2 linked regions of the Homo sapiens genome follow. The protein of the gene in region 2 purifies or fractionates together with the protein of the main gene of each other region. This does not show direct contact. Each region holds a gene or a part of one and is shown on either strand. Other genes may lie near its edges.

What was found. Proteins that work in one complex are often made in the same cells at the same time.
Region 1: the proteins of VASH1 (region 2) and RAB6B purify together in Homo sapiens (affinity purification with mass spectrometry; one large-scale study listed by BioGRID and IntAct). This does not show direct contact.

The regions. Positions count from the first base shown.
Region 1 is NC_000003.12:133,884,936-133,889,754, reverse strand, and holds part of RAB6B (ras-related protein Rab-6B), read left to right. Parts: intron 1-4,089; exon of another isoform or gene 4,090-4,189; coding exon of another isoform or gene 4,190-4,220; intron 4,221-4,819. UniProt on the Homo sapiens protein: The small GTPases Rab are key regulators of intracellular membrane trafficking, from the formation of transport vesicles to their fusion with membranes. Rabs cycle between active GTP-bound and inactive GDP-bound states.
Region 2 is NC_000014.9:76,759,479-76,764,999, forward strand, and holds the start of VASH1 (tubulinyl-Tyr carboxypeptidase 1), read left to right. Parts: upstream 1-1,989; 5' UTR 1,990-3,343; coding exon 3,344-3,652; intron 3,653-4,080; exon of another isoform or gene 4,081-4,165; intron 4,166-5,521. UniProt on the Homo sapiens protein: Tyrosine carboxypeptidase that removes the C-terminal tyrosine residue of alpha-tubulin, thereby regulating microtubule dynamics and function.

The DNA.
Region 1 (4,819 bases), on a different chromosome or scaffold from region 2:
TAACAAAATAAGGCTGGGCGTGGTGGCTTACGCCTGTAATCCCAGCACTTTGGGAGACCAAGGTGGCAAGGTGGGTAGATCACTTGAGGTCAGGAGTTCGAGACCAGCCTGGCCAACGTGGCAAAATCCTGTCTCTACTAAGAAGTACAAACATTAGCCAGGCATGGTGGCGCATGCCTATAATCCCAGCTACTTGGGAACCTGAGGCAGGAGAATCGCTTGAACCCGGGAGGCGGAGGTTTCAGTGAGCCGAGATGGCACCACTGCACTCCACCCTGGGCAACAGAGCAAAACTCCATCCCAAAATAAATATATATATATATATATATATATATATATATATATATATATATATATATATATATAACAAAATAACCTTATTGTCCTTTTGTTCCTTATTCTATCCCTAAAATCAGTCTATGACTATCTTTATAGATGTTGCCCCGACATTGCAAACTTTGCAGACTGGCCGGGGCCAGGCCCAAGGGTGGTAACATTTGTATCCCATCCAGGCTGCAGATTTCCCCTGTCCTCCCCACCCAAGTCGTCCATTGTTGCCGAATGCATCGGCCATTGAATGTGTAGGGCTGTCTGGTTTCAGTGTGGTTAACTTTGGGAAATTATTGGACAGAACCACTGGGGAAGGTGACAGAAGGCTAGGTAGAACAGCAGAATTCATAAACATTCAGGGTGGACTACCGGGAAAGCTGATGGGCATTTTCTCTGCGTCTGCCATTCTTTTCCATTTCTCACCACAGGGAAGAGAAGCCGAGGGAGCTCTGGTGGAGGTTGCCAGGGAGAAGTACCAGACACGCCCTGAAATGGACAGCTTTTGTTAGGGTGGAAAGACAGGCTGCCAGGAAATGGGGCTCCAAGCAGGGCCTGGGGACTGGAAGCCCCTGGGAACTTGGAATGCCAGTCCAGTCTTTGTTTCCTAGAACAAGGGAAGGAAAAGATGAAGACTCACAACTCTTAAGGACTCCTAGGATGTTCTTTACCATATCTTGGGGCTTGAGATTTCAAAATTGTTTTCATTATTTTCATAACTTTTGCCCTAAACAAAGTAAGATCTTTTTAAAAAATATTGACTGATATACATAATTTAGCATTTTAATAAAGTGATTTATTTTTTGTAGAAAAACTTATTTATTCTGATCTCTTGGTAACAAGGCCAGAGGGAGCCCAGGTGACCAGATCACATGCTCTGGGCCAGCCATCACCTGTCCCAAGGGGCTGACATACCTAAGGGACAGGCCCAAGTCCTGAGGAGGCAGATGTTACCTCACCCCTGAGGGCAGAATAGAGCTTTCAAAGCAAAGGTTACTTCCAGGAAATGCATAAAAAGAATGGCAGCCTGTGTCCTTCCTCACATGAGTTCACTCACGTGGCATTTATTGAACATCCACTATGCCGGAGGCTCCACACAGGGCACTTTTTATCTTCCCAGCCACCCTGTGACGGATGTGGGATCATCCCTGTTTTGTGGGTCAGGAGGCAGAGGCTCAGAGAGAGCTGGCCCTGCCCAAGGACTCACTGTGAGTGTGGCAGAATTAGAATTCAGACCCAGGTCACTGTGAGAAACACAGTGGACTATCAGACCTCTTGCCTCAAAGGCAGCTTCTGGCCTAGGACTGGAGCGGAGGAGACAGAAGAACACTGAGGTCTTCTGGACACGAGGTCTGCTGTGCATGACTCGTGGGGAGTGTTTGTGCCAAGCTCTTTGCTAAAGAGGAACCTGCGGGGCCCTGAGCAGGGAGGAGGGAAGCAGGGTCTCCGTGTGGGAGCTGCTGGAGCTGGTCTTGCACAGCAGGCACCCTGTTCTTCCATTTGTGGTGCTTTGAAGGGAGTTGATAGAGCCTATGGGGGCAGCTAAATCCCTCCCAAGTCAGCCCTCAGCCCACTGCCATGGTTCTAGCTGAGAACTAATTACTAACCAGGGAAGAACCAATTAAACTAAATGGCTGGTTCCCACCTACTCTGGGGTAACCCTTTCCTGGCCACATCCTCCCTTCTGGCTTGGAGATACCAGGGCCCTGAAGACCCTGATTCTATTCCCGGTCTGTCACTGGCTGGCTGTATGTTGGATAAGCCCCAGCCCATCTCTGGCTTTCTCCGTGTATCCCCTCAAGGCTACTGGGCTGGGTGACCCCTTGGGCCAGTGGAGCTCTAACTCTGGTTCTGCAATTCAGTGCCAGCTCTGAGTATGAGGCCAAGCCAATAACACTCCCAGCCTGGAGACAAGCATGCTGCTGGTGAGAGGGGCTGCAGGAGTGAGATGGGGGATCAGGGGCTCTGCGACTGTTGCCCCCAGAACTGTCCTGGGTCCCACATGCAGGATCTTCTCCAGCCTACCACCTCCTCTCCTGGGAGGCATTCCTGGCCCCCTACACCTGAGTGCAACCCTCCCTGGGGGCACAATGTGGGGGAGGGGCATGCTGGCTCCCTTCTTCTGAAGATGTGCTTGGCTCTGGTTGCCAAGCAACAAGGATGGGGCTATCCTGCACTTCTGCTTCCAGGAGGTGTGTCTTCCACACAGAGAGGAACCATGATTAGGACGACAGGGCAGGTGACACCTCCCAGGTGCTCCTAGCCCAGGGGCACCCCTTTCCACAGCCTGGTGGGAGGGGTAAGCTGGGAGGGCAGGGAAAGGACAGAGCCAAGAGGGGTATATGGTGTCCCCAGCAGACCTAGGAGGGCTTAGAGACCCGGCCCCAGCCCCAGCTCCCACCCCCACCCCATCACCATATTGGTCCTCCTGCATCCTGGGCTTCCACCTCAGCCCACCCCTCTGCTGAATGGATGGTGTTGGTGTGCAATGGCACCACCTGTGCTCATTTTCCTCACCTGTGCAGGAAGTTGATCATTACCTTGTTGGGGTTCCAGGAAGATCAAGTACATCTATACATGGCATGTGATTAAGGCTCACATGATAAAAGCTCAGGTGATAGGTAATTTTGTTAATGAAATAGTAACAGCAATCTCCATCTCCTCCCTCATTGCAGAAGTAGGGTGCGAGATTTTGAGAATCATTGATCATTTCTGTATTGTGAACTGTGGGGTCTACATCCTCGTGATCTGGCAGGAAGAGCTGCTCATCCCATTTTATAAAGAAAGCGAAGGTCTGCCAGGTGAAGGCTTTTACACAGATGGAAGGACCCTTTGACTCCCTGGCCAGTGTTTTCCCCAGCTCCCCATCCCTGCTCAGAGACAGGCTGGCAAAAAGTGGGACAGACTCACCATGCCTGCTCCTCTGGGGCCACCAAACCTGCTCAGGGGAAGAGTACCTCATCTTCACAGCTCCGTTACTTCCTGTAAGGAGCTCAGCCAGGGTGGAGTATAAGGGCAGAGGCTTTGCAGCATTGGGGTTATATGCCTTCAGATGTGTGAGGTCGGTAGTACTTGGCCCACAATAAGCAGGCAACAAATCTCAGCCAGTATTAAGATTAGTATTACATACACAAGCAAGGCTATGGGCGTGATGTGCTTGGAGGAGTCAGGGAAGGCTTTCTGGAGGAGGTTTTGCATAGTGAGCAGGAACTCACCAGCAAAGAAGGGGAGGCACTGAGGGCAGAGGGCCTGACCATGCCCAGGCAGTGAAAGGCTTGGGGTTTCTGGGGAATCGGGTGTGGTTCAGGGTGGTGGGATTCTGGTGCGGGTGGAGAAATAGTGGGGGAGAAGGGGTTGAGCCTGGGGGAGTCAGTAGGGTCAGGCCCTGGAGGACCTCCCTGCAGGCAGTGGGGATCCACTGGGGAGTTTTGACCCAGAGGGACATGCTCATGGATTAGAAGGTGAAGGCAGAATGTGTTCTGATTGGAGGCAGGAGATCCAGGTGGCTGAACTAGGTCAGAACAGAAACGTTCCGAGGATGGAATTTATAGAGAGGGCTTGTAAACTTAAGCTTCCTTCCAGTTCTGAAGCTCAGCTCCACTGCAGATGTATATTTTCTTGATTCTTTCTCTTAGAATGAGGCCTCAGGAACAATGAAGGATTGTAGGGGAGGGACTATTGTCTCTCTCTGCAAGGCCACACTGTACGCAGATGGACCAAAGCTAGCCCCTTTAAGCTCCCCTGTCCATCCTATCTCCACAGTGCCCTGGGTTCCCTGACTGCTCTGGCCTTCCATGGGTGTTCTGCGGGACTGCTGGCAGCCCTTCCGGACTCCTCCCTCTCTGCTACCTGCTCAGGTTGGATGTGGCATATGACCAGAAACTGGCCATTGGGTGTGTGAGCTCCCCTATCCTCTGGTCATTGGATGTGTGAGTCCCCCATCCTCTGGTCATTGGGTGTGTAAGTCCTCTGTCCTCTGGTCACTGGGTATGTGAGTTCCCGTCCTCTGATCATTAGTGTGTGAGCAGCCCATCCTCTGGCCATTGGATGTGTGAGTCCCCCGTCCTCTGGTCATTGGGTGTGTGAGTCCCCCGTCCTCTGGTCATTAGGTGTGTGAGTCCCCTATACTCTGGTCATTGGGTATGTGAGCCCTCCCTCCTCTGGTCATTGGGTGTGTGAGTTCCCGTCCTCTAATCATTAGTGTGCGAGCAGCCCATCCTCTGGCTGTTGGATGTGTGAGCCCCTTGTCCTCTGATCATTGGTGTGTGAGCAGCCCATCCTCTAGCCATTGGATGTGTGAGTTCCCCATCCTCTGGTCATTGGGTGTGTGAGTCCCCCATCCTCTGGTCATTTGGTGTGTGAGTTCCCCATTCTCTGATCATTGGTGTGTGAGCCCCCCATCCTCTGGTTATTGGGATATATGAGCCCCGCCGTCCTCTGGTTATTTGGTGTGTGAGTCCCCCGTCCTCTCATCATTGGTGTGTGAGCCCCC
Region 2 (5,521 bases):
ATAGAAGATGTTCTATGAGTACTTACTCTTTGAATGAATACCCTACATCTATTTTATTTGTCATTTCAGAAAACACATGGTATTATCTCATGCTGCGTAACAAGTTAGTCCAAAACTTAGCAGCTTAAAACGAGAATAGTCACTTATCCTCTCTCAATTTCTGTGGGACAGAAAGTCAGACAGGGCACAGCAGGGCTGGTTGTTCTCTGCTCCATGTCTGGGACCTCAACTCTAAGACTTAAAGGCCGAGGGCTGGCAAGACCTGAAGTCTCGGTTTGCCATGATCTGGTGATTGACTCTGGCTGTTGGCTGAGAGCCCAGCAGCAGCTGTCAGCGAGAACACCCTCATGTGGCCTCACCATGTGGCTTGGGCTTCTTCACAACATGGTAGCTGGTTTCTTCTGAGGAACCAAGAAGAAGCTGTCTCCTTTTTATGGCCTGGTCTTAAGAGTCATACAGCTTCACTTTCATCACACTTTATTCATTAGACACCAGTCACCAAGTACATCCCACATTCAGGGGGAAAGGAATTAGATCCCATCTTTTGAAAAGAATGGTCAAGAGCTTGCAAGCCAATTTTAAAACCAGCACCACTTGGCTAACACAAGAAGCAATGTATAGAGTGAAAAACAAGTGTCTGAAGAAGTAAGACTTCTGTTCACATTCTAGCTCTGCCACTTACTAGCTGTGTGAGTTTGGGGAAATTACCCTCTGAGACTTGGTTTATACAATACAGGGTGATAGTTGTTGATCCCTAGTGATTTTTCTACGCTTGGAGTCTTCTTGCCTTAGTGAGTTTAAGAAGATCCAGGCTGAACTAACTTTCTTGGAGTCTTGCAATCCTTCCCATCACTGATAACCCTTGGTTTCTGACCCTGGAGGTAGTAAGAGGTTGCTACGGGAGCACAGGGTACCCAGAAAGTTCAGATACTAGGGACAGCTTTAGAGAACAGATGTGAAACCACTGAGGCCCTGGGGTCTCTCTAAGGCCTTTAACCCAGCCCTTGTGTAGTAACCTCAGCTTGTCAAGAAATGCAACGACCCCACAACTAAGGAATCTGAATCTGCCGGCTAAGGCCAAGGAATCTGCATTCTCCCACAAGACTGTGATTCATGCTAACTACAGGCAGGGGAGAGGGGGAGCATCTTAAAGCACACACTCGGCCGTCTCTTCCTAAAGTTCTTGGCTTCAGCCTAGAGATAGTGCCTTTCCCACCATTTACAACTCTATGGCATGAGGGAGGCGGAGGGTGCGTCCAGTGTCCAACCACGCACCACAGCTGGTTGTACTTTCACCTTCCTCTAGGCCAGCGGACCCTCCCCAAGCATTGCCTCCCACGCCCACGTCGCGGTCCCACCCTGGTCCGCGGGGTCCAGAGCGTCCAAAGCCCGGTCTAGGCAGATGGTCTAGGGGTGAGCTCTGCGCACCCCATTCCCACCAGTGCAGGCAATCGAATAAAACAGGGTGACTTTTAACCCTTTTCGTTTCCAGAGATAGTGACCCCCCGTCTCAATCCCTAGATGTCCTCCTCTAAGAACTGTGCGCGCTGGGAGGGACTCTGCGCTCACTCACTGTGACCACCTCGGCTGGGATATGGGGAAACTGAGGCCTACAGAGGGAAGGGAACTGCTGAACGTCCCAAAGCAACACAGGCACTGAATCCGGTCTAGAATCCCAGTCTTCCAGGCCAGTGCTCTCGGTCCTACCGGCTCAGGGCCCCTGCGAAGAATCTTTTTCAAGAAATTCCCGACCGCAGGAATTCCTTCTGCGCTAGGAATCTCCATGGAGTTTGCGCTCCCTCTGGCACGTTGAAAACGTCCTCCGCAGCTTCGCACCGGCTTCGCGGCGCCCTGACAGCTGGGTGAGGAGGGAGCGAATGCCCACCGGCGTCCTTGGGGTAACTTGGGACAGAGGCACCGCCGCGGGGGGCGGAGGACTGGGCGCGAAGGCGCTGGCCCTTTAAGGGGGGGACGGAGCGCATGCGCGGCGCGGGCCGTAGTCGAGCCTGGTGGGCGGCTGGCTGGCAGGGGACGTGGTCGGCGGCAGCGGGGCCCAGGGGCGGCGGGGCTGCAGCAGCGGCGGCCCCAGCTTCGCCGAGCAGCGATCGGCTGGTGGGCTTCTCGTTGGCGGGCTCCGCGTTGGCGGGCTGCTCCCCAGGCACCAGCGCAGCGCGCGCTCGCCCGGCTTCGTCACTCGCCTCCAGCTACATCCGCCGGCCGAGGCTGCGCGAGCCTCCGGGCTTGCGGTCCCCGCCCCGCGGTCCTTCCTCCACCCTCAGCCAGGGCAGCTGCAGCCCGAGCGAACAGCCACGGAGCATCCTCCGCCCGCCCGGGCCGCGCCACCGCCCATGCTGCAGCCAGTCCCAGGCAGCGACCCCGCGGCCGCAGCCCGCCGCTCAGTGACCTCAGCCTGGCCCCTGCGCGCCGCCCGAGCCGGTCCCGCTGAGCCGCGGGCCCCGTGCCCTGCGATGGCTCGGCTGGTGCAGCGCGGCGCCAGGTGCCAGCCGTCCTCCCGCTGAGACGCGCCCGAGTGGGGACCCGCTGGGCCTCGGGGCTCGCAGCCTTCGCCTCCCCGCCGCGCCCGCTCCCTTTCTGGGGACTCCGCCGCTGTTTCTGGGGACGAGGGGACAGGGGACCCAGACAAAGCCCACTTTGTGCAGGGAGTTGGCCGCAGGCGGGGAATGTGCGCGTCGGCGCGCGCCCCCTCCCCGCTCCCGGCCAGCTGCGAGTCTTGGCTCCCGGACTTGTCTCGTCGCGTCGGAGAAATCGCCCCCCAGCGCCGCTCTCCCGCCCGGGGGTCTTGGTTCCGAGCTCGCGCGGCCGGGAGTCGCCTCGGTCTTCCTTGGGGCGCGCGCAGATGTGAGCGTGCGAGAGTTGTGTAGGGGATTTTGTTCCCTCCGAAACTGAGACCCAGGGCGCCCAGTGGGCACCCGTGCCTTGACTCTGTCCTTTCTGCAGCCGCTGGTCCGAGCTGTCTGGCCTCAGTTTCCCTCCGACTTTTCTCCGCTCTGCCAGCCCTCACTGCTGCCCGTCATTGTTCTCGCAGTTAGATGGGGGTGCTTTGTGACGGCTGCCAAGTTGGGGTGTGTTCTCTTTATTCCGTTTTTCAAACAGAACAAGGCCTCCAAGGCTGACCCCAGACAACCCACCCCCTCGGACCCTAATTCACCTTATTGCACTGATTTTTTTTATCAAGTCGTATTTTATTGTACAGGAGCCACGCCCTGATTTCTTAAAGGCGCCTTGCACTCTGGCCATGTGTTATCTCTGCAGCCGGTGTGTGGGAGGCCTCTTGTGAGCCAGTTGTTTTCCCGCCTCCACCACCCCCCTCGAAGATTTAGGGATGCCAGGGGGGAAGAAGGTGGCTGGGGGTGGCAGCAGCGGTGCCACTCCAACGTCCGCTGCGGCCACCGCCCCCTCTGGGGTCAGGCGTTTGGAGACCAGCGAAGGAACCTCAGCCCAGAGAGATGAGGAGCCAGAAGAGGAAGGGGAAGAGGACCTGCGAGACGGAGGCGTCCCCTTCTTTGTCAACCGGGGTGGGCTACCTGTGGATGAGGCCACCTGGGAAAGGATGTGGAAACACGTGGCCAAGATCCACCCCGATGGAGAGAAGGTGGCGCAACGGATCCGTGGGGCCACAGACCTGCCCAAGGTGAGACACACGGGTCAGGGGGGTGATAGCACAGTCTAGGTTTTAGTGACCTTGGGGCCAAGAGTGAAGCCACACTCTCCTCCCACGGGGCAGGGGACCACTGGCTCGGTAAGATCTTTAAAATGCAGTGATATCATACCTGTCTAGGAGAACTTTCTCTCACTGCCATTCTAGGAGGGAGGCTCACATACATTGTCTCCAGGAGGCCCTCCCCGCTGTCTTTTAAAATGTCCACGTTTTACAGGAGGGGACAGCAGCAGATGGAACTAACAAACACAGTAGGATGGCTTGACGTCTCATTTGCTTGATGACACTTGCCAAGCCAGAGAACTGTGAGCAGACAAATGTAATGAATGACTAAGGAGATGCAGGGCTTCATATGTTGAGAAAATATTTTCGTGCATTATGTCATTGAATTCTCCCAACAGCCTTGTGACGTAAGTACAGTTTGGATTCCCATTTTACAGATGAGAAAGCTGAAAACTCAAGTAGGAACTCAAGATCCCACAGCCAGTAAGTGGCAGAACTGAGATTCAATTTCAGGTCTTCAGGAGAAGGGCGGGGGGTGGTGGTGGAGGGAAGTGTCCAGGTCCTCTTCTCTGTTGGACAGTAGATTCAAGCACATTAGAAGAGGTCTTATGGAGAAGCATAAAATGAAATAATTTTTCTGTGTTGGCTGTAACTCCTCCTCCATGACAGCTATACTTCAGTTGTGTCACCAACGAAAACAGAGGCTGTATCTCATTCATCTTTGTCTTCCCAAGGCCTCCTGTGTGCCTGGCACAGAACAGGCACTAGTGTGTGTGTTTGCTGAATGAAAGGGTATTTGAGAGTTTCTGTGCTGTACGCTGCTATATGGAAATACATGCCAGATATTAAAAAAAAAAAAAACATGATCAAGACTAGGAGGCACTTTGCCAAATGCAGAGGCCTGAAATCTCCAAAAAAGAGCCCTTTGGACTGAGTTCAGAGCCCAGTGCTTAGCCCTGCCTGCCCAGGTTGGAAGGAAGGGGGCTAGGAAGAATGGAAGTTAGTGTGAATTAGACATGAGGACAAGTGGCCCGTTTTGTTTTTACCAAGTTATTGGTACAGCCATCAGAAAGTGTCTTCTGGGAAAAAGAGAATCAAAGGTTGAAGGTTTAAATACTGCCTAATGTTTCCAGGGGAAACAAAATGTAGATTGATTTGGAATGGCCGCATAAATGTGCTCTGCACTGACTTAATATTTATTTAGCTAATCCCCTAGAGTTGGATGTTGTTTCCAGTTTTATTCCTAAAATGAATACTATGGTGAACATTCTAAAATATAAATTTTGGGGTTCATCTCTGATTATTTCCTTGGGAAAAATTCTGAAAGCGAAAGTATTGCGTCAAAGGATATTGACATTGGTAGGGGTCACCTGCTTATCTATATGGCCTCTTCCACCTATTTGAGATGCAGTTTTCTTATCAATAAGATGAGGTTGATTGTGGGGAAGAAATGAGAGACTGTGTGTTAAAGTATTTAACAAACTGTAAAGCCCCAAACCAGTACCTGGTTATTGGATATCAGTTACCTTTTTTTTTTTTTTTTGAGATGGAGTCTCACTCTTTCCACCAGGCTGGAGTGCAGTGGCATGATCTTGGCTCACTGCAGCCTCCACCTCCCTGGTTCAAGTGATTCTCCTGCCTCAGCCTCCTGAGTATCTGGGATTGTAGGCACCTACCACCACACCTGGCTAATTTTTGTATTTTTGGTAGAGATGGGGTTTCATTTTCAACATTTTGGCCAGGCTGGTCTCAAACTCCAGACCTCAGGTAATCCACCCACCTCAGCCTCCCAAAGTGCTGGGATTACAGGCGTGAACCACCACGCCCGGCCAGACATCC